Regions from separate parts of the Homo sapiens genome. Here all the other regions are linked to region 2. The links come from fine-mapping of genetic effects on gene expression. A gene starts in region 2. Each other region holds a variant in brackets. All regions are shown on one strand. Distances are from middle to middle. Region 1 overlaps LOC399975 (a long non-coding RNA gene). Region 2 holds the start of ARHGAP32 (Rho GTPase activating protein 32). Region 3 overlaps ARHGAP32 (Rho GTPase activating protein 32).

Evidence for each region. PIP is the estimated chance that this variant, and not a neighbour inherited with it, causes the effect. A credible set is the group of variants that fine-mapping cannot tell apart.
Region 1: its variant is the best candidate, but not a certain one, in a credible set for the expression of ARHGAP32 in whole blood (TOPMed, PIP 0.70).
Region 3: its variant is the best candidate, but not a certain one, in a credible set for the expression of ARHGAP32 in tibial nerve (GTEx, PIP 0.89).

The regions. Positions count from the first base shown.
Region 1 is chr11:129,265,885-129,273,884 of GRCh38, reverse strand. All of the region lies in intron 1 of LOC399975 (a long non-coding RNA gene), which reads left to right. It also overlaps a transcript of ARHGAP32 not described here. Among named protein-coding and RNA genes, the nearest start is that of ARHGAP32, 78 kb to the right of the region's middle. The variant C/T (reference allele first, on the strand shown) is at 3,124.
Region 2 is chr11:129,188,082-129,196,081 of GRCh38, reverse strand. It overlaps ARHGAP32 (Rho GTPase activating protein 32), which reads left to right and starts at 3,757. Exons shown (of 23, transcript NM_001378024.1): 1 at 3,757-3,999. The coding sequence starts at 3,884.
Region 3 is chr11:129,099,015-129,107,014 of GRCh38, reverse strand. The region is part of intron 5 of ARHGAP32 (Rho GTPase activating protein 32); the gene reads left to right. Among named protein-coding and RNA genes, the nearest start is that of ARHGAP32, 89 kb to the left of the region's middle. The variant T/G (reference allele first, on the strand shown) is at 3,147.

The DNA of each region.
Region 1 (8,000 bases), 78 kb before region 2:
CCAATTTGTCTCTGTTTGAAAAGATAAGCATCATACTCTAGGAGAGAATCTTCTAGAAAATTCTATCAGTTTGCCCTAAAAATAGTAAAATCCTTATTTGGATTTCAGCCTTGTGATGTGAAGCAAGCCATTTGACTCCACTGCTTTTATTCCCTGTGTGTAGCATGGAAACAGTAATTCCTGTTCCTCCTTTCATTGGAGAAATATAGGTGGTTGAAGGACTCTTAAGATGAGTAGCATCTTCAGTAGCTGTGCAGAATATATCATGTGAAGTTCAGTAATTACCCAGGATATCAAACACAGACCAAAAAAGTGAAGCAACTTTTAACAGGAAAATGAGTTTTGAACCTGGAGTCAAGAGGACCTGGATGTTTGTCTTGGCTCTGTTGTAAACAGCTTGTGACTTTGGACAAGTAATTTCTGTCTCCAAAGGTCCAGTTTCCATTGACCTACCTAAGGAGAATCTGACAGACCTTCCTTCTTGTTTTATATTCAGTGGCCCTCCAGATTAAGTAGGAATAGCAATCCTGACACAGTAGGATAAGGGAAACCACATCTCTTTGTATCTGTGAACTGACAAGTATCCACTGAGTACATCTGTGTGTCTCCTGCCATGCTTCAAGCAGTGGAAGATAGATAGGTAAGAAGGTGTCATTGAGTCTTTGCCCTCAGGAGGTGTTCATTTCATGGGGAGACAAACTATTTTATGAAAAGGAATATTATAAGTAAGCAAGGAGATAGTGGAATGATCTGGCAGTTTGAGGACTTGTGATGTACTATTGGAGAGGATACTTTGTAGCCTTGTGACCTTGAACATGTAAAATGGGCTTTGTAGACTCCCTCCAACTCTGAAATTTGGTCATTCTGTCTTTGATGGAGAAGCAGCAGCTCTGAATCAACCTGTTGGTAGACAACCCAAGTAAGAACTGCTCAATTAAAGCCAGATTTTTACACACATTCTGCGTAATTGATTTAGTAGATGGAAGGAAAGGTTTACTTTAATTTACTAGAAATGCAATCAACGGATAACCCTTCTGAAAAATAAAGCGTGCGAGAAGTGACAAGAGACCAAAGTGAGCTTGTTCCTGAGGCAGTACATTTGTGCCTGGATCTCATTTCTTCTTGCCTACAGGTCTTCTATTCTAGCAGTTTTCTTTCCTAAGATATCATTCTCTCTTTACTGAATCCTCTTTCAGTTAGCATCCATGCCTTTTGTTACTTGCAGCAGTGATAGCTAGTTGTCTACCCAATGCCATTCTCTGTGGCTTCCTTTTAGTATATAGGATCCTCAGGGTTTATCTGGGCACATGTTGGCCCAGCTAGAAACTGCATTTCCTAGCTTCTCTTTTATAGTTGGATGTGGACTAAATTCTGGCTAAATGGATGTGGACATAAGTGGTATGTGTGATTTCTGGGTTGTAGCCTTAGAAAGGAAGCTAATCGTTTTCTATTTTCTCTTTATCCCCTTTTGCAGATGAGAGTGTAGGATGTTAATGCACTGATGGGGCATATTATTCAACCTGCAAAGGTGAGGGCAATACCTTAGCGGGGGATGGATGAATAAGATGGATTTTTAGATGATCTTGTGGAGCAGAACTGCCTCCTAGCCTTGTACTTCTCATTTATCTTTGGGTGGTTAGGTGAGAGAGGAATAAAGTTTTATCTCTTGAGCTACTGATGCCTTAAATGAATAAATCACACCTTTTAAACCACCTTTACCTTGGGATCCCCTTCATTTACATTTATTGTCCTTTTTTTGTTTCCTTTTGCAGCAGAAATTTCAAGAGTTGTTTATATTTGCTGTACCTTCTTCTTCACCAGTGATTCTTTAGCCTGATCATTTGAGCTCATCATATGAATTACTCTTCCTGCCAGTGACTTCTTCCTCTCTCTCCCCCAAGTCTTTACCATTTCAGTAAGTGGCATCATCAGCCACCACTTGTGCAGGCCAGAACCCCTGGAGTCATCCTTATCCTTGATTTCTTTTTTTAATTGCACTCCAATGAAATTGTTTTTAATCAAGACTGCAGTGACCTGGATCTTGCCAAAGCTAGTGGTCAGTTCAATGTTTGTATCTTATTTGACCTCTCTCACCAGCATTTCACAGTGGCCAACTTTACTAGTTTTGACCTCTTAGTTGTTCATTCTCATTTTCTATATGCTTTTGCCAGTTTATCTCTACTTTCCCACTCCTTGAAAATTTGGAATGTCCCTCAGGTGATTTCATCCAATTTTTGGTTTCAAATACCATTTATATGCCGATGAGGCTCAAATTCTTATTTCTAGTACTGACTTTTTTCCCCCTTGCGCTCTAGACTCTTGTAACTCCATGCCTCTCCTTGGATGTCTAATGGATACCTCAAAGGCAGCATGAACAAAGGAGGGCTATGAATTACTCTTCCTGTTGGTGACTTCTTCCTCTACCTCCCCCAAGTCTTTACCATCTCAGTAAGTGGCATCATCATCCACCACTTGCGCAGGCCAGAACCCCGGATTCTTCCTCCTCCTTGATTTCTTTTTTTCCTCCTCATCTCATGTTAAGTCTGGTCACCTCCACCTTTATAATATAAACCGAACCTGACTACATCTCACTTTTTTCACTGGCAAAAACCTAGGCTAGGCTAGGCTAGTAGGCTTTGTCGTCTGGCAAACTGCCAGCAGACTTCCCTGCTTCTACTCCTGTCCTTGTCCTTCCCCTCATTCTTACCATACACGGGAGCCAAAATAATGTTAAACGTTAATCAGATCGTATCATTCTGCTTACTGGCTTTCCAATATACTTAATGCTAAAACAAAAACTTAACATTTTACCGTGGAAATAAACCCTTCATTTTGGTCGCTTATGAGGCTCCATATCAGTGGTTCTTAACCAGGGAAGATTTTCCCCTCAGGTGATGTCTGGAGACATTCTTGGTTGTCACAAATTGGGGTAGGTTGCCACTGGCATCTAGTGGGTAGAGGCCAAAGTGGCTGCTAAACATCCAACATCCAGTAATGCACAGGACAACTCCCAGCAGCAAAAAATTATGTGGTCCAAAATGTTTGTAATGTGTGATATGGCTCCTGGCTGCTTCTCTGCTCTCATCTTCTGCTCTCTCTTCTTTTCTTCTTTGTTCACTGAGC[C/T]ACAGTCTCAGTGATGTTCCTTTTTTTTTTTAAGTAGACTATTTTTACGTTCACAGCAAAACCGAGCTAAAGGTGCAGAAGTTTCCTGTATACCCCTTGTCTTTACACATATGCAGCTTCCCCCATTATCAGCATCCCACATCAGAGTCGCATATTTGTTACAGTTGATGAGCCTACATTGAAACATCATTATCACCCGAAGTCCATAGGTTACATTAGGATTCACTCATTTTTCCCACTTGTTCTGAGAGGAGAAAAAAAAAAAAGACTGACTCTTGGTGTTGTACCTTCTATGGATTTGGACAAATTAATAATGACATGTATCCACATCATAGTATCTTATAGAGTAGTTTGACTCTGCTGAAAATCATCTGTGATTTGGCTATTCATCCCTCCCTCTCCCCAGCCCCTGTCAACCACCAGCCTTTTTACTGTTTCCATACTTTTGCCTTTTCCAGAATGTCATATAGTTAGAATCATAGAGTATGTAGCCTCTTCAGACTAGCTTCTTTCACTTAGGATAAACATTTAAGTTTCTTCCCTGTCTTTTCGTGGCTTGATTGTTCATTTCTTTTTTATTGCTGAGTAATATTCCATTGTCTGGATATACTACAGTTTATTTATTCATTCACCTGCTGAAGGACATCCTAGTTGCTCCTAAGTTTTGGCAGCTCTGGATAAAGTTGCTACAAGCATCTGGGTGTGGTTTTTTTTTTTTAATAAGTAAGTTTTCATCTTGTGTAAATACCTAAGCATGCGATTGCGGGATCATATGTTAAGAATAAGTTTAGTTTTGCAAGAAACTGCAACACTGTCTTCCCAAGTGGCTGTGCCATTTTACAACCTCACCAATAGTGAATGAGAGTTCCTGTTGTCCCACATCCTTGTCCACATTTGGTGTTGTCAGTGTTTTAAATTTTGGCCATACTTATGGGTGTGTGGTATATGACATTGTTTCTTCCCTTTGAATAAAAGCACGTTCTGTCTTAGGGATTTGTGTTTGCTGTTCCTTTTACTTAAAATGACTTATTTTTAATTTTTTTTAGAGACAGGGTTTTACTCTGTCACCCAGGATGGAGTGATCATAGCTCGTTGTAACCTCGAACTCCTGGGCTCAGGTGATCCTCCTACGTCAGCCTTCCAAGGAGCTAAGACTATAGGTGCGTGCCACTGTGCCGGGCTAATTTTTGTAATTTTTGTAGAGACGAAGTCTCTCTATGTTGTCCAGGCTGGTGTCAAACTCTTGGGTTCAAAGGATCCACCTGCCTCAGCCTCTCAAAGTGTTGGGATTATAGGCGTGAGTTATGGCGCCTGGCCATGTACTTCTTTTAAGTCTCGTCATGGCTGCCTTCGTCCTCTCCCAGAGAGACCATCATGATTACCTGTATATGTAGCACCCCCACCTCTTTCTTTTATATCATCCCATTTTGTCTTCTTCATATTCATTTATTATTTGCTTATTTGTTTAATTAATTAATTAATTTATTTTTCGAGAGAGGGCCTCATTTTGTCACCCAGGCTGGAGTGCAGTGGTGCGATCTCAGCTCACTGAAGCCTCGACTTACTGGGCTCAAGCAGTCCTCCCACCTTAGCCCCCAAGTAGCTGGAATTACAGGTGTGCACCACCACGTCTGGCTAATTTTTGTATTTTTAAATAGAGATGGGGTTTCACCGTGTTGCCCAGGCTGGTCTCGAACTCCTGGACTCAAGTGATTCAACTGCATTGGCCTTCCAAAGCTCTGGGATTATAGGCATGAGCCACTGTGCCCGGCCATGTGTTTAATTTATAACCCCCCTCTCTCTGAGCTACTCAAGGGGTGAGGGCTTTGTCTAGGCTCCTGCTGTATCTCTAGCATTCCTACTTAATAAACATTTGTTGATGATAGAGAGGTGCTAGAGTCACTTTTAGAAATGGAGCAGGGTTTTCAGCAATAATGAGAAGTCACAGGATCCAGCTGGTAGCAGTAGAGAAAGTTGTGATTTGCTGGAGGGTGAAAAATCCATTGAGACAAGGCTGCTTTGGTCTTCTATTTAGTAACTAATTTTGAAGAATGGAGGAATTCACCTTTTTTTTTTTTTTTTTTTTTTTTTTTTTTTGGTGAGGAGGCAAATAACGAAAGAGCAAGATGACAGGAACTTTTAAAGAAAGAAAGGTTACTTCAGGGTGTAACTTTGGTTTTGCCTGTGTCTCATACCACTAGTCTCTGCATATAGAGCTATATCTTCATATTGCCGCTATATAGGCCCCCAGGGAATATGCCATCTGCCTTTCTCTAATATCAGAATTCCTTCTACATTATCCTTGGGAGGTACTTACCCTCTGCTTCTTTATTTTTACTGTCTGAAAACTCAGTTATTCACATGACCGATTAACTTTTTAAAAAGAGTTCTTATTGTTAGGAAATGTATCTCATTCTATGAAATTGGAACACTACTCCATGCATTTCTGACTCCACACAGATCTGCTTTATTTTTCACATGATAGCTCTTTAGCTGTCTGTGAAAAATGGCTAGTTCTTTTATCTTCCCACCAGTCTTTTCTCTTTCTAGGCTCAATGGATTCATTTTCTTCAACTATTCCTCATAGGACAAGGTTTTTAGATTATTTTTCAGGCCCATCCCTAACATTTTTGGGACTCGGGGTAGGGATACAAATTGCAGATCTGCTATGGTTTGGATATTTGACCCCTCCAAACCTAATGTTGAAATTTGATCCTCAGCATTGAAGTTGGGGCCTAATAGGAGGTTTTTGGGTCATGAGAGTGGAGCCTTCCTGTCTACATTAATGCCTTCCGTGGGTGGGGGGTGAGTGAGCGAGCTGTCCCTCCGTTAGTTCCCCACAGAGAGCTGGTTGTGGAAAAGAGCCTGGTACCTCCCTCCACTTGCTTCCTCTCTCACCATGTGATCTCTGCACATGCTGGCTCCCCTTTGCCTTCTGCCATGAGTAGAAGCAGCCTGAAGCTTTCACCAGATGCCTAACCTTCCAGCTGGCAGAATTGTGCACCAAATAAACCTTCTTTATAAATTACCCAATTTCAGGTGTTCCTTTATGGCAGTACTAAACGGACTAAGACGAGGTTCATATGTCTATGCAAGTTATGAATCAAGTTAACTGATAAATAGAAAATGTTCCATTGCTGATTTTATCAAATAAAACTCCATAGTAACCTAGATCAGAGTCAAACAGAGAATTCAGATTCCTCTGAGTTTGTTTTTTTTGTTTTGTTTTTGAGACGGGGTCTCGAAACATATGTCTATACAAATTATCAGTCAAGTTAACTGATAAATAGAAAATGTTCCATTTGCTGACTTTATCAAATAAAACTTCATAATAACCTAGATCAGAGTCAGAGAATTCAGATTCCTCTGAGTTTGTTTTTTTGTTTTGTTTTTGAGACAGAGTCTTGCTTTGTTGCCCAGGCTGGAGCGGAGTGCAGTGGCATGATCTTGGCTTACTGAAACCTCCGCCTCCCAGGTTCAAGTGATTTTCCTGCCTCAACCTCCTGAGTAGCTGAGGGACCACAGGTATGTGCCATCATGCCCCGTTAATTTTTACATTTTTGTTAGAGAGACGGGGTTTCACCATGTTGGCCAGGTTGGTCTCGAACTCCTGATCTCAAGTCATCTACCCTCCTTGGCCTCCCAACTCTGAGTTTGTTTTTAGAACAAGCTGAGGTGCAGAGAGTCAGCCTCTGACCTGAGGTCTTCTTCTCTTCCCCAGGCTCCTTGAACTATGAAGTTTGCATGTGCGTGTCTGTGGAACTCCAGCCTGTACACCCTCCAAACAGCAGCTCTTTGGCCATTCTTTGGCCTAGGGTTGTAAATACTGTTGGTTGGGTCATCTGTCCTTAGGAGAACTGACTCAGGGGAGAGGCCTGAGCAGACCCTGGAAGAGGTGGGAGATTTTGGGGTCCCGGTCAAGATGAGGGCTGGGGCACGTAGGCTGCAGATGGGCACATCCTTTAGGCCCTTAGCATAGCTGGCCCCATGGTCAGGGGTATGGTTAGAGGAAGGCCAGTGCAAGGCCCTCTAAAGCTTGAGGCCCAGGATGGGTGCCATTGTTTAGGTCTAAGCAGTACTGTTCTATGCAAGTAAAACTCTGGTTTTGGTCCTATTGCTAGAGTTGGTTATTGTGGAAAATGGTACAATCTCTCTTATGGTGCCTCAAATTAGATGTGATGTTTTAGTTAGAGCTTCCTAACCAGTGTGCCAGCAGTTCTCTGAATGTGTTACAGATGGGCCAGAAATACTGATTCCCTTAGTTCCCAGGATTGTCAGGGGTAGAGTGGCAAGAGCTTCTAGGCTGATCACTTTTCCAGCAGGATGACCTATTTACCCCAGGGTGCCTGTACCAGTGCTACTATGCTACCAGTATCAGGTGCTTTATGGGCAGGTTTAGGAGCATATATATATATATTTTAATGAACATTATCACTTGGTCCACCTGAAAGAGTAAGAGGTGTCACAGTAGGTTTTGTGCCCTTCTTATTAGTAGGGAAATAGATCCAGGTTAAGTCACTTATCTAGTGACATTTTCTTACTCAAGTAGGCCAGTTGAAACTAGAACTCCGTTTTTATGACTTATTTTGGTATTTCTCTCTACTAACCCAAATTGTGTTCCGTGTACCTTTTTTTGGGATAACTTGTCACTCTTATTCATCTAGGGCTTGTAGGAAATTACATTTTTTAGAGCTTTTCTCTCCCAAATTTTGTTACATTGTTTTCCTTTTATTGTTATTTTTTAATCTAAATATTCAGTTTTATGTTTAATCCCTACTAAACAGAATTATTTTTATGAGATTCAACCAATTGATGGAGCATCTTGAAACTGGATTTTATGTGTTACTCATTTTTTATAGCTCTCTTCTTTAGATTAG
Region 2 (8,000 bases):
CTCAGGTTCCCTACCTCTTGGAGGTAGAAGATGAGAACCAGCTAGTTCGAAATTACTGCTGGTGACTCCTGTGGTTTCAGTCAAAGACTTCAGCTCCATAAAAGCTTGTTGGGAAAGTGAAGGCTGATCAGGGTTTAAACAAATCAGGAAGAAAAGGAGTTAAAACCACCTTGTGGTCTTCAGCAGTATCTAGTCTCTCTCACACACTGGTAGCCAGAGTGATGGACTCGGCTGTGTTCCATCCCTGCCCCCGCTGTTAACCATCACCTGTTGATTCCGCTGGATTTTCATTTACTACTGGAGAAGGGAACAGAAAACAGAAACACATGTAGGTTTTGAATTTAAAAACTTTTTTTCCTTTTTTTTTGAGACGGAGGTTCGCTCTTGTCTTCCAGGCTGGAGCGCAATGGCGTGATCTCGGCTCACAGCAACCTCCAGCCGAGGCGGGTGGATCACTTGAGGTCAGGAGTTTGTGACCACCCTGGCCAACATGGTGAAACCTCTTCTCTACTAAAAATAAAAAATTAGGCGGGTGTGGTGGCGGGTGCCTGTAATCCCAGCTACTCGGGAAGCTGAGGCAGGAAAAACATTTTTAAAAAACTTGTGATGGCAGAGTCAAAACAGAACAAGCCTCGGAAGATGTGCACATTTAACTGTCCTTCAGTATTCTGTGTAAAAATACCACTCACAGTTCACGTTTTCACTTTTGAAAGGCTCGAAGTGAGGGAAATCAACCATCATAATGAAAGAACAAAAGAATGATTAAAAGAAAAGGTGAATAGGATTCATGAAAACGCTTTGAGGCCGGGCACAGTAGCTCATACCTGTAATCCCAGCACTTTGGGAGGCAGAGGCAGGCAGATCACTTGAGATCAGGAGTTCGAGACCAGCCTGGCCAACATGGTGAAACCCCATCTCTACTAAAAATACAACAACAACAACAAAAATTAGCAGGTGTCGTGGCACACACTTATAATCCCAGCTGCTTGGGAGGCTGAGGCAGGAGGATTGCCTGAACTGGGAGGTGGAGGTTGCAGTGAGTCGAGATCGTGCCACTGCACTCCAGCCTAGGTGACAGAACAAGACCCTGTTTCAACAAACAAACAAAACAAAACAAAACAACCCCCCCCCCCACAAAAAAACAACACTTTGAAGGAGTTAGAGTTGTTTAGAAAAAAAAGAACTAGATTCTTAATGAAATAATATTTAAAAATCCAATTCTTTACTGAAGGTCATGAAAGATTCTATTTAAAATTAGTTAATATTTTGGTAAGGATTATATGTGCATGACATAGTGAAAAACTATCTTTCTTTCTTCTTTTTTTTTTGAGACGGAGTTTCACTCTTGTTGCCCAGGCTGGAGTGCAATGGCGTGATCTCGGCTCACTGCAACAATCTCCACCTCCCGGGTTCAAGCGTGTCTTTCTTTTATTCCTCTTCTCCAGCTGTCTGTTTTCCTCCGTGGAGACAACTACTGGTACTAGTACTGATCCTCTTCTTCCATAGATAGTCTGCATTTGTTTCTCCTAACTCCTCATTGAAAACACAGATGGCAGCATAGCATACTGCACATACTGCCCTATACTTTTACCCCTTTCTTCTTTGCCTTAACAGTATTCCTTAGGCTTTGTTCCGTATTGTGACCTGTAGGGCTGCCTTGTTTTCTCATATACTCACTGTGTAGCATTCCATTCTATGGGTATTCTGTAATTTGCCTAGTTTTCTATTCCTCAGGAAGTTAGGTTGTTTTTGCTATCCTATTTTGCTACTATAATGTCTACCAGAATGAATGTTCCTGTTTGCCTCTTACTTCTACTTGTGAAAGTGAGATAATTTCCTAAAAGAGAAATTGCTGGGCCAAAAAGATGTGCATTTTGAATTTTGGTAGATTTTGCTAAATTGCCCTGAACACAGGTTGTACCAGTTTAAACTCCCACTGACAGGCATGTTTCTTTTCCCATGTCCTCTTTCAGTTTGTTAAAACCTTTTAAAAGCTTTGCCTATGTGATAGATTTTTTAAAAGTCATCTTATTATGTATTGTTTTACATTTCTGTTATCAGTGAAGTTACTTTTAACATCTTTTAAGTTTCTTTTATGTTTATCTCTGAGTATTATATTTTTGCTCTTTGCCTATTTATCTTTTGAGCTCTTGGGTCTTAGAAGTTTTTAAGAACTTTTTATATATTAAATAAATTAACCCTTTGTGATATGTTTCAAATATTTTTTTCTCAACTTGTTTGCATTTTGACTTTGCTTATAATGTTGTTCTGTTGTTTTTGGTTTAAAAAATTTTTTTTGAAAAGTTTTTAAAATTTATATATGTATTATATGTATTATATAATATATATTATATATAATATATAATATATAATATATATTATATATTATATAATATATATTATATATTATATATAATATATATTGTATATGTATTATATAACATATATTATATATATTATATAACATATATTATATATTATATATAACATATATTATATAATATATATATATTATATATAATATATATATATTATATATAATATATATATTATATGCTCTAGGGACCTGCATATATATATATTTTTTTTTTTTTTTTTTTGAGACAGGGTCTTGCTGTGTTGCCCAGGCTGGAGTGCAGTGGCGTGATTATGGCTCACAACAGCCTTGAACTCCCAGGCTCAGGCGATCCTCCCACCTCAGCCTGTTGAGTAGCTGGGACTACAGGGTGCACCACCACACTTGGCTGTTTCCCGCCCCCCCCCCCCCCCCCCCATAAAGATGAGGTCTCGCTAAGTTGCCCAGGTTGGTCTTGAACTCTTGAGCTCAAGTGATGCATCCACCTCAGCCTCTCAAAGTGTTGGGATTACAGGCGTGAGCCACTGTGCTTGGCTCTTTATTTTTCAAATATGAAAATTCAAGAAGACTTCAGTAGATGTCTTCTTAATTTTTGATTAAATCAGATACAGTGGAAAGTCAGGGCTTTGCAGTTTGTTGCTGCTTGGTAAAAGACAAATAGCCATGAATATCCAGCAGGTCAGTAGTTTCTGTCAACATGGCTCTTTTCTAAGTAACAGTTGTGTTGTTGACAGTCATAGATGCTATACCTTTCACTCATTTCCCAGCAAGTCATTTTATTGCCACCATGACTGTTTGCAGTTTAAATGTGTAAAACTTTGCATGCTTTTATTTGATGTGATTGTCAGCATCTTTGAACTTGGGACACTTAAACTTTTTTCTTTCAAGGACTGTGGACAAGCCCAGCTTTTATGTCTCACTCTGGATACTTGAGCAGAGATGCATATGGCAGTCCTTACTGAGAGGAAGGAAAGATGGGTGTAATATTGGAAGGCATGAACCTAGGCAGGTCCCTAGAGCATACTTATCTTCTCTACTTATTGTGAGCCTCCTTAACTGTGAGATCTATAACTGTGCTTCTCATGTGCTTGGCCAGTGGATGGTGTTATTCTTTCTAGTTTTCTATTTACCTTTCTGGAGTCCGAGATCAAAAAAGGATACAAATAAAGCCTGCATTTTGAAAATACCTATTTTTAACTTATTAAGTGGAAACTTTGAGAAGAGTCATTATTACAGAATAATTAGTAAAAAATCACCTTCATTTAGATTCTGCTTTTGGTTATGTAGGTCACGCAGCCTAAGGCAGTGGGAGGGTCTAGGTGTCACCAGTATGGCAGTCAGACGCAGTGACTGTGCTGCCTGTGATTTCCTGTCTGTACCCTGACTGTAATTAAACCAGCACCAGTACCTGTCACTAGGGCACCAGACACACATCTGAGTATACATGAGTAGAGCTGAACAACCTGAATGTTGGTGCTTTTTATTCCATGCCTGGAGGTTTAGTTTTTTTTGTTTTTTAAGTACAAGATGGAGACTGAAAGTGAGAGTAGCACTTTAGGGGATGACAGTGTCTTCTGGTTGGAGTCTGAAGTTATAATCCAGGTGACTGACTGTGAAGAGGAAGAAAGGGAAGAGAAGTTCAGGTGATTATGGAATTCACAGTTCCTTTGTCCTGTCCACTCCCTACCCCCACCCGCACCCCTTTTTCTTCTCTGCATTTCGGTCTTTTTTCCAATAAGACTTTCTGTTTTCTGGGGGAAGGTTTGGAGCTCAAGGGAGCAGGTTTTGAGTTGTATATAGCACTCCTCATTCCACAACTTGCCCTGAACTTGTAAAATGCATTTTAAAGGACTTGTTAGAACGCCAGGAGGAGAAGGTGTTAGACAGGTTTTGTAGTAGCCTTTCAGGAATTTCAAGTAGACACTCATAATGAACTACTACCCCTTCCTGTATCTGATTTGTATCAAATAGATTTGATCTGAATTTGTATCTAATAGATTTTTCTTCCTCTTTTTCTTGGAATGTGGTGTGTGTGTGTGTGTGTGTGTGTGTGTGCGTGCCTGCCTGCCTGCCTGCTTTGTTTGCCTTATGCATGGGTATGAAAAATTCCGATTAAGTACAGATTGGTTATTTTGTGGCTTTGATCTTTACCCTTGTCTCTGATCTTGTATCTCATGCCCCCTTTCCCCCAAATCTCTCTTGGTTTTTGAATCTCTGGTAGTATTAGTAACTTCATAATTGAAGTTTTTAGAGGATGCCTCCTGATGAAGCAGCTCTCAGTTTAGTGTCTGTGGTGAAGAAAGATGTCTTAACCAGTTTGTGAAAACAGAACCAATGTTTCATTCATTCTGTTGTACTGTTGCAAATTTTAGGGGGCTTTATTCTGGCTTTTCTTTTTCTTTCAGAGTTAGCGATGTAATACCTTTGAGTATCACAAAAATCTCTTGATGAAGTTTGAAGTTTGTTGCTGCATATTATCACTGCCACTCACATGTGCAATTAAACATCTTTTATAAGTTTACCTATGAGAACTTGGATAGGTGAATATACTGTTTTCATCAGATACTGTCTTTGTGTTTAATGCTGAAAAAGAGTTTCTCCTTTTCTCGAGTCAAAGGATTTCTTTATCCACAAATTTTATTTTTTAAAGTCTAGGTTAAATGATGGAAGGGATTGAATATTGGGAACTCTTGATAACCCTCACTAAATTTTTTACTCTGGGGTTCAAATAAATGAGAAGTATATTTAAAATTTTAAAAGAATAATTTTCAGAGTATAAAAATGAATTATTAGCATATGATTATTTTTTGTCTGAACTTTTGTCTCATTTTCCCATAATTTTATCTAGCCTTTCAAATTTGAGTAAGTCCCTTCCCTTCCAAGGTATGCTAATTGTTAGTCACATGTTCTGCTTTTTAATATGGTTTGTGTCTTGCTAACAATGAGTAGGACTGAAGTATTTGTTTTGCTTGTAATAAAACTTTTTGACCTGGTATTCAAATTATGGAAGTTATTTGGGTATTTGTCAAAGGAAGAAACAACTTGGAACTTATTTCATTGTTGTTTTTATAACAGATTTGGTACTGTAATCCTAGATTTACTTGTAAGGCAGTGGGCGTCTCTCTGGGATTTTCTTTTGACAGTTAAAAGCAAATTTGTGTAAGGATGAGCTCTTCTTTTCCTTGGGAGTATGTGACAGCATTTTCACTCTGAGAAACTGAGCTAGTGATGTGTTGTTTAAGGAAACTATGATACCATAGGGCATTTCTCTTCTGTTTATATTTCCTATCTGAATAGCACCATGGCTCTCCTAAATCAATTATATCTTTGTGATTTGATCTGATTTTATTTACAAATGTAACAAAGAGGTCTGGGCAAGGCCCAATTTCATGTAGTGTCTCTCACGCATTCAGCAGTGAGGCATGAGGAAATGTGGCAGCAGAGTGGTTTCACAACCTCGTGGTGGTGTTCCTGCCGAGATGCCCTACAGGAAAATGGAGGCATGGGTGTGGAAGGGGAAGGGTCGGATAGGAGTTGCAGCTGTAACCTTGGGAGGACCAAATAGTAGACTCAGTGTGGTATGACAGTTGTTTTTGTAAAATCAATGTAATAATTTTAAAAATGTCTTACTGTGTTTTTATAAAAATCTCTGCAAATACATGTGACATCAAGCTGTCGTATTGGTTACATTTCCATTCACATACACACACATAGCTGAGATGAGGGCAAAAGATTGTGCACTTTTCTTTTTCCCTGAATAGCTTGTAAACTACATTTTAAATGCACTCTTAAAAGCCTGCTCTTGTGTAACTTAAGGCACCATGGCTAAGAGAGTAAAGTCATACCACACCTAGAATGTAGGCTTCTGGTGCTTCCAGGTGCCATCTGCTTTAGGAGGAAGTAGTCTCAGAGACAAGTTAATGTTTGTCCAGTAGCTTTTGAAATAGCATTTATTTTTGGACTCAGTTGGAGGAAAGGATCCTTTTTATTAACACTCTTTCACTATGGGAAGTTGCCGGTCTCCTTCATGGTGGTAGTTTAAATTTGTCTGCCATTGACTCACAGATCTTTCATTTTCTGATTTCTTATTTGTAGTCGGTATTATTACCTACCTTGTCACTGTGGTAAAATAGTTATTAGACTAGAATATTTAGTCCTTAGAATAAAATAGTTCCTAGAGATGATTAGAAAAATCCATCCCTGGATAAGAAGGAGGAATATAAGGCAGAAAAGGAAAAACATAAATGTTTTAATTCTATCAAGAAAGAAAAACTTTACTTAGAAATTGTTATATGTAATGTACTAGGCCATATATATGCTTTATACAGTGTATCAGTTAACTGCTTATCACTCCTATAAAGCAGGTATCATTTTTCCTATTTCCTCGGTGAGGAATTTATGGCTCAGAGAGTCACACAGCCCACATTTGTCATGGTGGAGCAAAATTTTGCAAGTGGTAGCACAAAAATTTGAACCCAGATGTAACTGACTTTGAAAGTGAAGACTTTAATGAAAGATTTTTGGGGCTATCTTCTGCTAAATGCTATTTTCTGCTAAGTGATAACTTATAAGAGGCTACAGCTGATATCTCAAGTTTTGAAATTCCTTTTTTTTGAGGAGGTTATGAGCATCAATGACATATAGATTATGTGACCATCATAAAAATGAAGTAATGAACACAATAATGTGACTTTTAAAAAATGTGACCTCTAGGACACCTAGGAATCATGAAAGGTTCTAGTTCTTTGGCATTTGAAGGTAGAAATGTTTATCATATGATTTTGTTTAGACTTCCCTAATACCACGTTATGGGCTGATAGACAGCCTGGCAAATATGACATATAATTTGAAGCAGCTACAGAGATGATATAGTGCTTAATTGAACCATATTTTTGATCACGATCTGTAGATGCCCAGATCGCTGATCTTCACGTATATCTCCATTATTAAGGCAATTCATTTTAAGTGACGAGAAAGTTCTGACTTTAGTTAAACTGGATGATTTGGTGAACATATTTTAATTGGGGGGGACAATGCCTTTATTGATTTATAGCATTATAGAACTAATGATACTTCATGCACTTGACTCGTTGGTTGGTTGCATTATTCATCCTCTACCTCAGGGGTTCCCAACCCCTGGACCGTGGACCAGTTATCTTATTTGGAAGGATGCCACAAGTTAGAAGCTATTGTGGCAGTCTAAGTAGGTAGTAAGGGTCTTGACTGTGGTATTGTACATCTTCTAGGCTCAAAACAGCTTTGAACTCCCAGGCCCAGGCGATCAGATCAGATCTAGATGATTTCTTTTAATGGCTCATTTCCCCTGGAAGCCCATAAAACAATTTCAAGATTTTCTGTTTTTATTACTCTGCCTGTTCTTTTATCTTCTGCAGAAATTCTTGATTTCAGGCTTCCCAGCCAGTTTTAATGATCCTGGAAGTACAGAGAGGTAGTATTAACAATTAACTGAGGCTGGGCATGGTGGCTCACACCTGTAATCCCAGCACTTTGGGAGGCTGAGGCAGGCAGATCACCTGAGGTCAGGAGTTTGAGATCAGCCTGGCCAACATGGTGAAACCCTGTCTCTACTAAAAATACAAAAATTAGCTGGGTGTGGTGGCGGGTTCCTGTAATCCCAGCTATT
Region 3 (8,000 bases), 89 kb after region 2:
TGATTATAGTGTGTCTTGGTGTGGAACTCTTTGGATTTTGGATGTGCACATTTATGTCTTTCATCAAATTTGGAATGATTTCAGCCATTATTTTAAAAAATAATATTTGCCCCATTCTCTTTTTCATTCTTAGATTTCCATAATGCGAGAGTTGGTCCACTTGATGGGTCTCATAGGTTTTTTAAAGCACTGATTAATTTTTAAAATTATTTCTTCTTTCTGTTCATTACATTTTATCTACTTGTCTTATCTTTAAGGTGACTGATTCTTTCTTCTTCTTGATCAAATCTGTTGTTGAGCTATCTAGTGAATATTTATTTTCTTTTTCAACTTTTATATTAGATTCAGGGAGTACATGTACAAGTGTATTTATTACCTGGGTATATTGTGTGATGTTGAGGTTTAGGGTACAAGTAATCCCATCACCCACGTACTGAGAATAACACCCAAAAGTTAGTTTTTAAATCTTTTCCTCACTGCCACCCTCCCCTATCTAGTAGTCCCCAGTGTCTATTGTTACCATCTTTATTTCCGTAAGTACCTGATGTTCAGCTCCGACTTATGAGTGAGAACGTCTGGTATTTAGTTTTCTGCTCCTGTGTTAATTTGCTTAGGCTAATAACCACTGTCTGCATTTATATTGCTGCAAAGGACGTGGTTTTTTCTTTTTTATAGCTGTGTAGTATTCCATGGTATGTGTGTACCATATTTTCTTTATCTAGCTCACTTTTGATGGGCACCTAGGTTGATTCCATGTCTTTGCTATTGTGAATAGTGCTGTGATGAACAAGTGAGTGCATGCGTCTTTTTGGTAGAACAATTTGTTTTCTTTTGTATATATATCCAGTAATGGGATCGCTGGGTCAAATGGTAGTTCTGTTTTTAAAGTTCTTTTGAGATATCTCCAAACTGCTTTCGACAATGGCTGAAGTAATTTACATTCCCAACAACAGTATATAAGCAATTCCTTTTCTCTGCAGCCTCACCAACATCTGTTGTCTTTTGTCTAGTCAGATTTTAACTTTAGTTATTGTACCTTTTGGCCCCAGACTTTGTTTTTTTAATACTTTATAACTTCTTGCTAATATTCTCATATGTTCATACATCAGTTTCTTGATTTCCCTTATTTCTTTGTCCATGGTTTCTTTGAACTTTTTGAATGTGTTGAATACAGTTTATTTAGTGTCTAGTTAAGTCCCATATATAGACTTCTCAGGTACAGTTTTTGTTTTTTCCTCTGATGAATGTGTGCTTTCCTGTTTCTTTGTATAACTTGTGGCTTGTGTGGCATACTGTACATTTGAATATTATAGTGTAGTAACTCTGGAAACTGGGTTTTCGTCTATCCTTAAGAGTTTGATTTTTTTCATTGTTCATGGCTGCGGTTTGTTTGGTGATTTTTTTTTCCAAACTGTTTTAGTGAAGACTGTATTCCTTGTCATATGTATTTAGTAAAGTCTTTCTTCTTTTAGCTTGTGTTTAGGTAGTGTTTTGTCAGGGATTTTTTTGAATGCCAGGAGTGAAAAATAAAAATCAATGAAAAAGCCACTTTCTCCGGTCTTTACGTGTTGCTTCTGTACTGGAATACTCATTCAACACCTAGCGAAGCTGTTTACAGGTCTGCCTTCGTCTTCCCTTCATGTTACACTTATCCTAGAGGTCAGCTGGAGGTGAAAACCTAGGGACTTCTTAGCTTTTTGTGAGTATGTGTCCTACCCTGTGCGTGTGCATGGCTTTCAAAATACTTCCATATACCCAGGCACTTTTGAATGCTGTCATTTCCCAGAGACCTCTCTACTCAGCTTTCCCTCTTAGATTTTAGGTTGTTTACTTTATGTCTCAAATATAATTTTTTTGCTCCAGATAGTTGTAGAGTTTTTGTTTGCCTTACTGTATTTTTAAGCAATATTTAATGGTTTTCCTCCTTGAATGAGTTCCATATTAGGTGAAATGTAGGTAAGCACCTTGCATCAGTTCTTCAGGTAGCCTCTAGACAGGTTAGAAGAGACAAACAATAGTTTGTGAATAGGGTCTGTCTATTCCTTTCAGGCCCGGTGAGGGTTGGCATCATTAAGACTACTGCTGAGCCAGAGAGGTTTGGGGCAAGCACAAGTAAAAATGCCACAAAGCTTTCCTATTTTGAAGTGGCTTTTTCCTTGATTCAGTGATCTCTTGGTTATTCTAAACCCTTTACTGTTTTCTGGAGTACTGAGAAAGTTGACTCTGAGAGATTGTGCTTGTTTTTTGTGATTTTTGGAGGGATTGAAGCTTGTAGCCACCTACTTTACCATTTTATTGACACCATTTGGCCATCTTCTTTCTCTTTTAGTTTTTTCTTTTCTTCTTATCTCCTTGCTTTTTTTTTTCTGAAATGTTCTCTCTCCTTATGCCTTCCTCCCCATTTCTTCCTAGAGAGATTAATTTTATTTCTAGTCTTAATTTCTTTTAAGGTTATTGACATTTAAAAATTTTATCCTCTTCCTTTTGGTTTGGAAACCAGAAAATAGAAAATATGTATCATTTTTCTATTCTTTTTATGGCTGCAATTAAAATCATAACTCAAAAACCTAATTTAAAGGCTAAATTTTTTGGTATCTCTGATTCTGTCATAAAGTATCAGCATTTAGAATATTTTAACTGTGATCACTCTTTCCTCCATGTTAGTGTTGTTCAGGATGATAATTCTAACTTTTCATCTTTCATAATTAAATACTATTCTTATATAGCTAAATTTGTTTCGATTTATAAACTTATTTCCTGAATTTCTTGTTCAATATTTCTACCTTACTTCTCAGTTTATTCTTTTAGAATCCCTTTTCTTCTGAGGTACATATTTTAGAAATTTTTTTTGGTGAGGTTTTGTTGGTGGGAACTCTTCAGTTTTTGTTCATCAGAAAATGCTTTTTTTGGCTCTTATTTTTACATGATAGTTTAGGTATGAATAACATCTTGGTAAATCTCTTTTCTCAGAACTTAAAAGATATTCTTAAACCGTTCCATCTGTTACTGTTGAGATGTTAGGTGTTTTATAGTTACTTAGATATTTCCTATTTCTGGAACTGTTTATTCCTTCCTGCAGTTCTGGGTTTTTGTCTAGTACCATTTCTCTTTAGCCTGAAGAACTTGTTTTAGTTTTTTGGTTGGAC[T/G]AGTCTACTGGAGACAGATTCTTTCAGATTATTTTTATTTGTGAATATTTTTATGTTGCTTAATTTCTGATGGTTATTGGCATGAATTATATTAATAGTATTGACAACATTTCTTTCAGCACTTAAAAGATGTTTTCTTTTTGTCTTCTCCCCTCTCTTGTTTCTGATGAGAAGTCAGCTGTTATTTATACTTTTCCACCATGAGTCATGTATGTTTTTTTCTTTATAGATTGAAAGTTTTTTCTTTATCTTTCCTTTTCAAAATTATAATTATGATATGTTTAGTACTGATTTATTCATTTAGTTTGGGGTGCACTGAGTTTCTTGATTTTGAAGCTGATGTTTTCACATATTTTGGAAAGTTCTCATCTGGTATCTCCTGAGATATTCTGCTTCATTCTCTCTTATCTCCTTCTGGTACTCCAATTATATCTATGGTTATATGTGTTTGACATTCTCTTAGGGAGCTGAACTGTATTGTTATTTTTGTTTATTCTTTTTTTCTCTTAGTGATTCAGTGTGGATACTTTTCATTGACCTGTTTTCAAGTTCACTGCTCCTTTCATTTACTGTTGCCAGTTTGCTCTTAAAATCTGATACAAAAAATCATTTTTCGCATTTTCTATGGAACTTTTTTTCATAGTTTTAATCTCTGCTGGATTTCCCATATTTTCTTTTGACTGCTGTAAGTACCACACATATGTAGAATCAAGTATCTGTCTTTTTGTGTTTGGTATATTTAACATGAGCACAGTGTTCATCCCTGTTGTAGCATATGTCAGAATTTTTTCTTTTTAAAGGCTGAGGCTGAATAATATTTCATTTTGCCTGTTTGTATACATGTGTAAATGTGTGCACCACATTTTGTTTATCCAGTCATCTGTTGATGGGCATTGGGTTACTTCTGCTTTTTAGTTATGATGAATAATGCTTCTGTGAACATGGGTTTACAAATGTCTCTTTGAGACTCTGTTTTGTCTTTGGGGGGTGTATACCCAGAAGTGGAATTGCTAGGTCATATAGTAATTCTTCTAGGTCATATAATAATTCTCCTTTTAAGCTTTTTGAGGACCACCATTCTCTTTTCCACAGTGGCAGTACGAATACCACCAACAATGTACAAGGGTTTTAGTCACTCTAATTTGAAACCAGCACTTGATGTTTTCTGTTTTTGGATAATAGGTGTCCTTATGTATGTGAAGTGGTATCTCATTGTAGTTTAGATTTGCATTTGCTAATGATTAGTGATTTTGAACATCTTTTTGTGTGCTTACTGGTCATTTGTATATCTTCTTAGGAGAAATGTCTATTCTCTAGTACTTTGCCCATTTTTAAATTGTTTTTGTTTTTGTTGTTGTTAGGTGATAGAAGTTCCCTCATTTTGAACCTGTGGTTCTCACTGCATGTGACATAGGTGTCTTGAAGACAGCATACCAATGGGTCTTGGTTCTTTATCCAGTTTGCCACTGTGTGTCTTTTAATTGGGGTATTTAGCCCATTTACATTCAAGGTTAGTAGTGATATGTGTGGATTTGATCCTGTCATCATGATGTTAGCTGGTTATTTTGCAGACTTGTTTATGTGGTTGCTTTATAGTATCATTGGTCTGCTTATTTCAGTGTGTTTCTGTAGCAGCTGGTAACAGTTTTTCTTTTCCATATTTAGTGCTTCCTTCAGGAGCTCTTGTAAGGCAGGTCTGGTGGTAACTAATTCCCTCAGCATTTGTTTGTCTGAAAAGGATCTTATTTCTCCTTTGCTTATGAAGCTTAGTTTCACCAGATATGAAATTCTGTCTTGGAATTTTTTTAAGAGTGTTGAATATTGACTCTCAATATCTTCTGGTTTGTAGGGTTTCTGCTGAGAGGTCTGTGGTTAGTCTGATGGGCTTCCCTTTGTTGGTGACCTGACCTTTCTTTCTAGCTGCCTTTCACATTTTTTCTTTCATTTCGACCTTGGAGAATCTGACAATTATGTGTCTTGTGGATGATCTTCTTGTGAAGTATCTTACTTGAATTCTCTACATTTCCTGAATTTGAATGTTGGCTTCTCTAGTTAGGTTGGGGAAGTTCTCATGGATGATATCCTGAAATACGTTTTCCAATTTGGTTCCATTCTCTCCACCTCTTTAAGGGCCACCAGGGGGTTGTAGATTTGGTCTCTTTACACAATCCCATATTTCTTGGAGGTTTTATTTGTTCATTTTCATTCTTTTTTCTCTATTCTTGTCTGTCTGTCTTATTTCAGAATGCCTGTCTTCAAGCTTTGAGATTCTTTCCTATGCTTGGTCTGTTCTGCTGTTAATACTTGTGATTGCATTATAAACTTCTTGTAGTGTGTTTTTCAGCTCTATCAGGTTGGTTACATTATTTTCTATACTGGCTATTTTGTCTGTCAGCTCCTGTATTGTTTTATCATGCTTTTTAGCTTCCTTGGATTGGGTTTTAGTGTACTCCTGTAGCCCAGTGATCTTCATTCCTATGCATATTCTGAATTCTATTTCCATTTCAGGCCAGTTCAGGACCCTTACTGAAGAGAGGATACATTTGTTTGGAGAATAGAAGGCACTCTGGCTTTTTGAGTTTTCAGGGTTCTTGTGCTGATTCTTTCTCATGTTTGTGGGCTTATGTACAGTCTTTTAGGTTGCTGGCCTTTGGATGTTTTTTTTCCCCCTTTTATCCTATTTGATGACCTTTAGGGTTTGATTGTGTTATGAAGGGGATTCAGCTGATTGGCTTCATTTCTGGAAATTTTTGGGGGGACCAGCGCTCTGCTCCCAACTGTATTACATCCAGACTTTGTTCTCTGTCTCCTTGAGGTTAGGAATCCACTGTGTTGGTGGGGACCAAAGTGCTCCTGGACTGCTGGTCACTACACTCCAATGGGTGGTGACAGTCAAAGCATTTCATAGTGTGGTGATAGCAGGGTCCATCCTTGTAACAGCAGCTGCAGCAGAGTGCTAGTGGGTGCCAGGGTGCTTGGCTCCCTATGGGCATTCACCACAGTGGCAGGGGCAATGCAGCTGGGTGGTGGGTGGAGGCCCTCTGTTGGTTACTGTGCACACAGTTGTGCTGGAGGTGGTGTTGGCTTGGGAGCTGGTGGGCGCAGGTCTAGGTGCCTTCTCTGTGCCACATAAGCAGAAGTGGTCACTCAGGGTGGGAGAGGATTCGCTGTTCTCTGTGCAGTGTTAGTATAAGGGCAGGGTGCAGGCAGGGTTGGGGTTGGCTGGCTCTGCCCACCAAGGCTCCGTCTACAGTGGTGGTCGGCAGGTGGAGGTAGGGTGGATTGCACTCTTGTTCACTGGTGGAGAAAGGAAAGCGAAACCTGCCCATACTGACATGTGCCAGCAAAGTGATGTGTGGAGTTGCCATGGCCTCAGGGGAAGCTGACATATGGGGAGGGAGTCTGGGCTGATGCATGGTCATAGATGCCACCCCTCTGCAGCTCTCCACAGGTCAGGCATGGTCCACCATTGCAGAAGCTGTGATATAGCTCCCAGGACATGTGAGGCTGCCCTGCAAGCATGTGTGGCCAGGCTGGGTCCTTGGGAGAGGCCAGCACACCAAGGGATGGTCAGATTGAACTGGCCCCATCTGATGGGCAAGACCATCTTGCAGAGATCAGGTCTAGCAGTTCCCCTTGAAGTAAAGCCACCTATGGTTGCAAGTTGAGCTTATGGGCATGACCACTCCTAAATGTGCTCTGCTATGGATGCTCCTGCATCAAACCTTCTGGGCTCCACATCAACTGGATTGCTGCCCCTACCACTTCTCTAAGAAGCTCTCCCTGCCAATTCAAGTGTCCATGGTGGTCAAAGGGGGGTCTCTGCCTGCCAGGGTTTCAGAGGCCTGTAGCGAGTGCAGGTTGCTCCTTGCCAGTTCAATTCACCTCTTCCCCGGGAGCTGTTGGGATCCAGGAACGAGTCCTGGTGCAGTGCACAGTAGCCCCATGCAGGGTTCCCAGCTTTCTCCCCCTTCAGCCTAGCTTCTGTGTCTTCCTTGTGTACACTCTGGGTGCCTTCCCTCTGAAGATCTGTTAGAAGCACGCCAGTCATCTTGGTCTCTCAGTGGGAGCTGTTTCACCTGGCTGCATCTAGTCAGCCACCTTGTTCTCCCCCACTGCTTATAATTGTATCTTCTTTGTGTATTGAACCTTCTATTATCATATACTATTCTTTTTTGTTTCTAAACTTTTTGGTTTAGTGTCTGTTTTATTTATTTTTAGTATAGTCACCTCCACTCTCTTTTGGTTTCAATTTGCATGGAATATCTTTTTCCATCCTTCCACTTTCAATCTATTTGTGTATTTGGGTCTAAAGTGTATCTCCTGTAACCACCATATATAGTAATGCATCACTTAACAGGGTTATTTTCAGAGGGATATATTATTAGGTGATTTTGTAGTTGTGAATATCTCTAAAACATACTTAGAATAGGTATAGCCTACCATACACCCAAGCTATCTGGTGTAGCCTATTGCTTCTAGGCTACAAACTGGTTCAGAATGTTAATCTGCTGAATACTATAGGCAGTTGTAACACAATGGTAAGCATTTGTGTCTCTAAACATGGAAGAGGTACAGTAAGAATGTGGTTTTATAATCTTATGGGCCCACTGTGATATATGCAGTTTGTCATTGACCAAAATGTTGTTATGGTGGCACATCACTGTAATTGAATTATGTTACTTTGTTATTCTGCCAATCCCTGTCTTTGATTGTACTGTTTATTTCATTCACATTAAAAGTAATTACTGATAAGGAGGGACTTCTCTCATTTTTCTATATGTTTTCTTTATATCTTATAGCTTTTTTCCCTATATTCCTGCATTAATGCTTTTTAAATGTGTTTAGTTGATT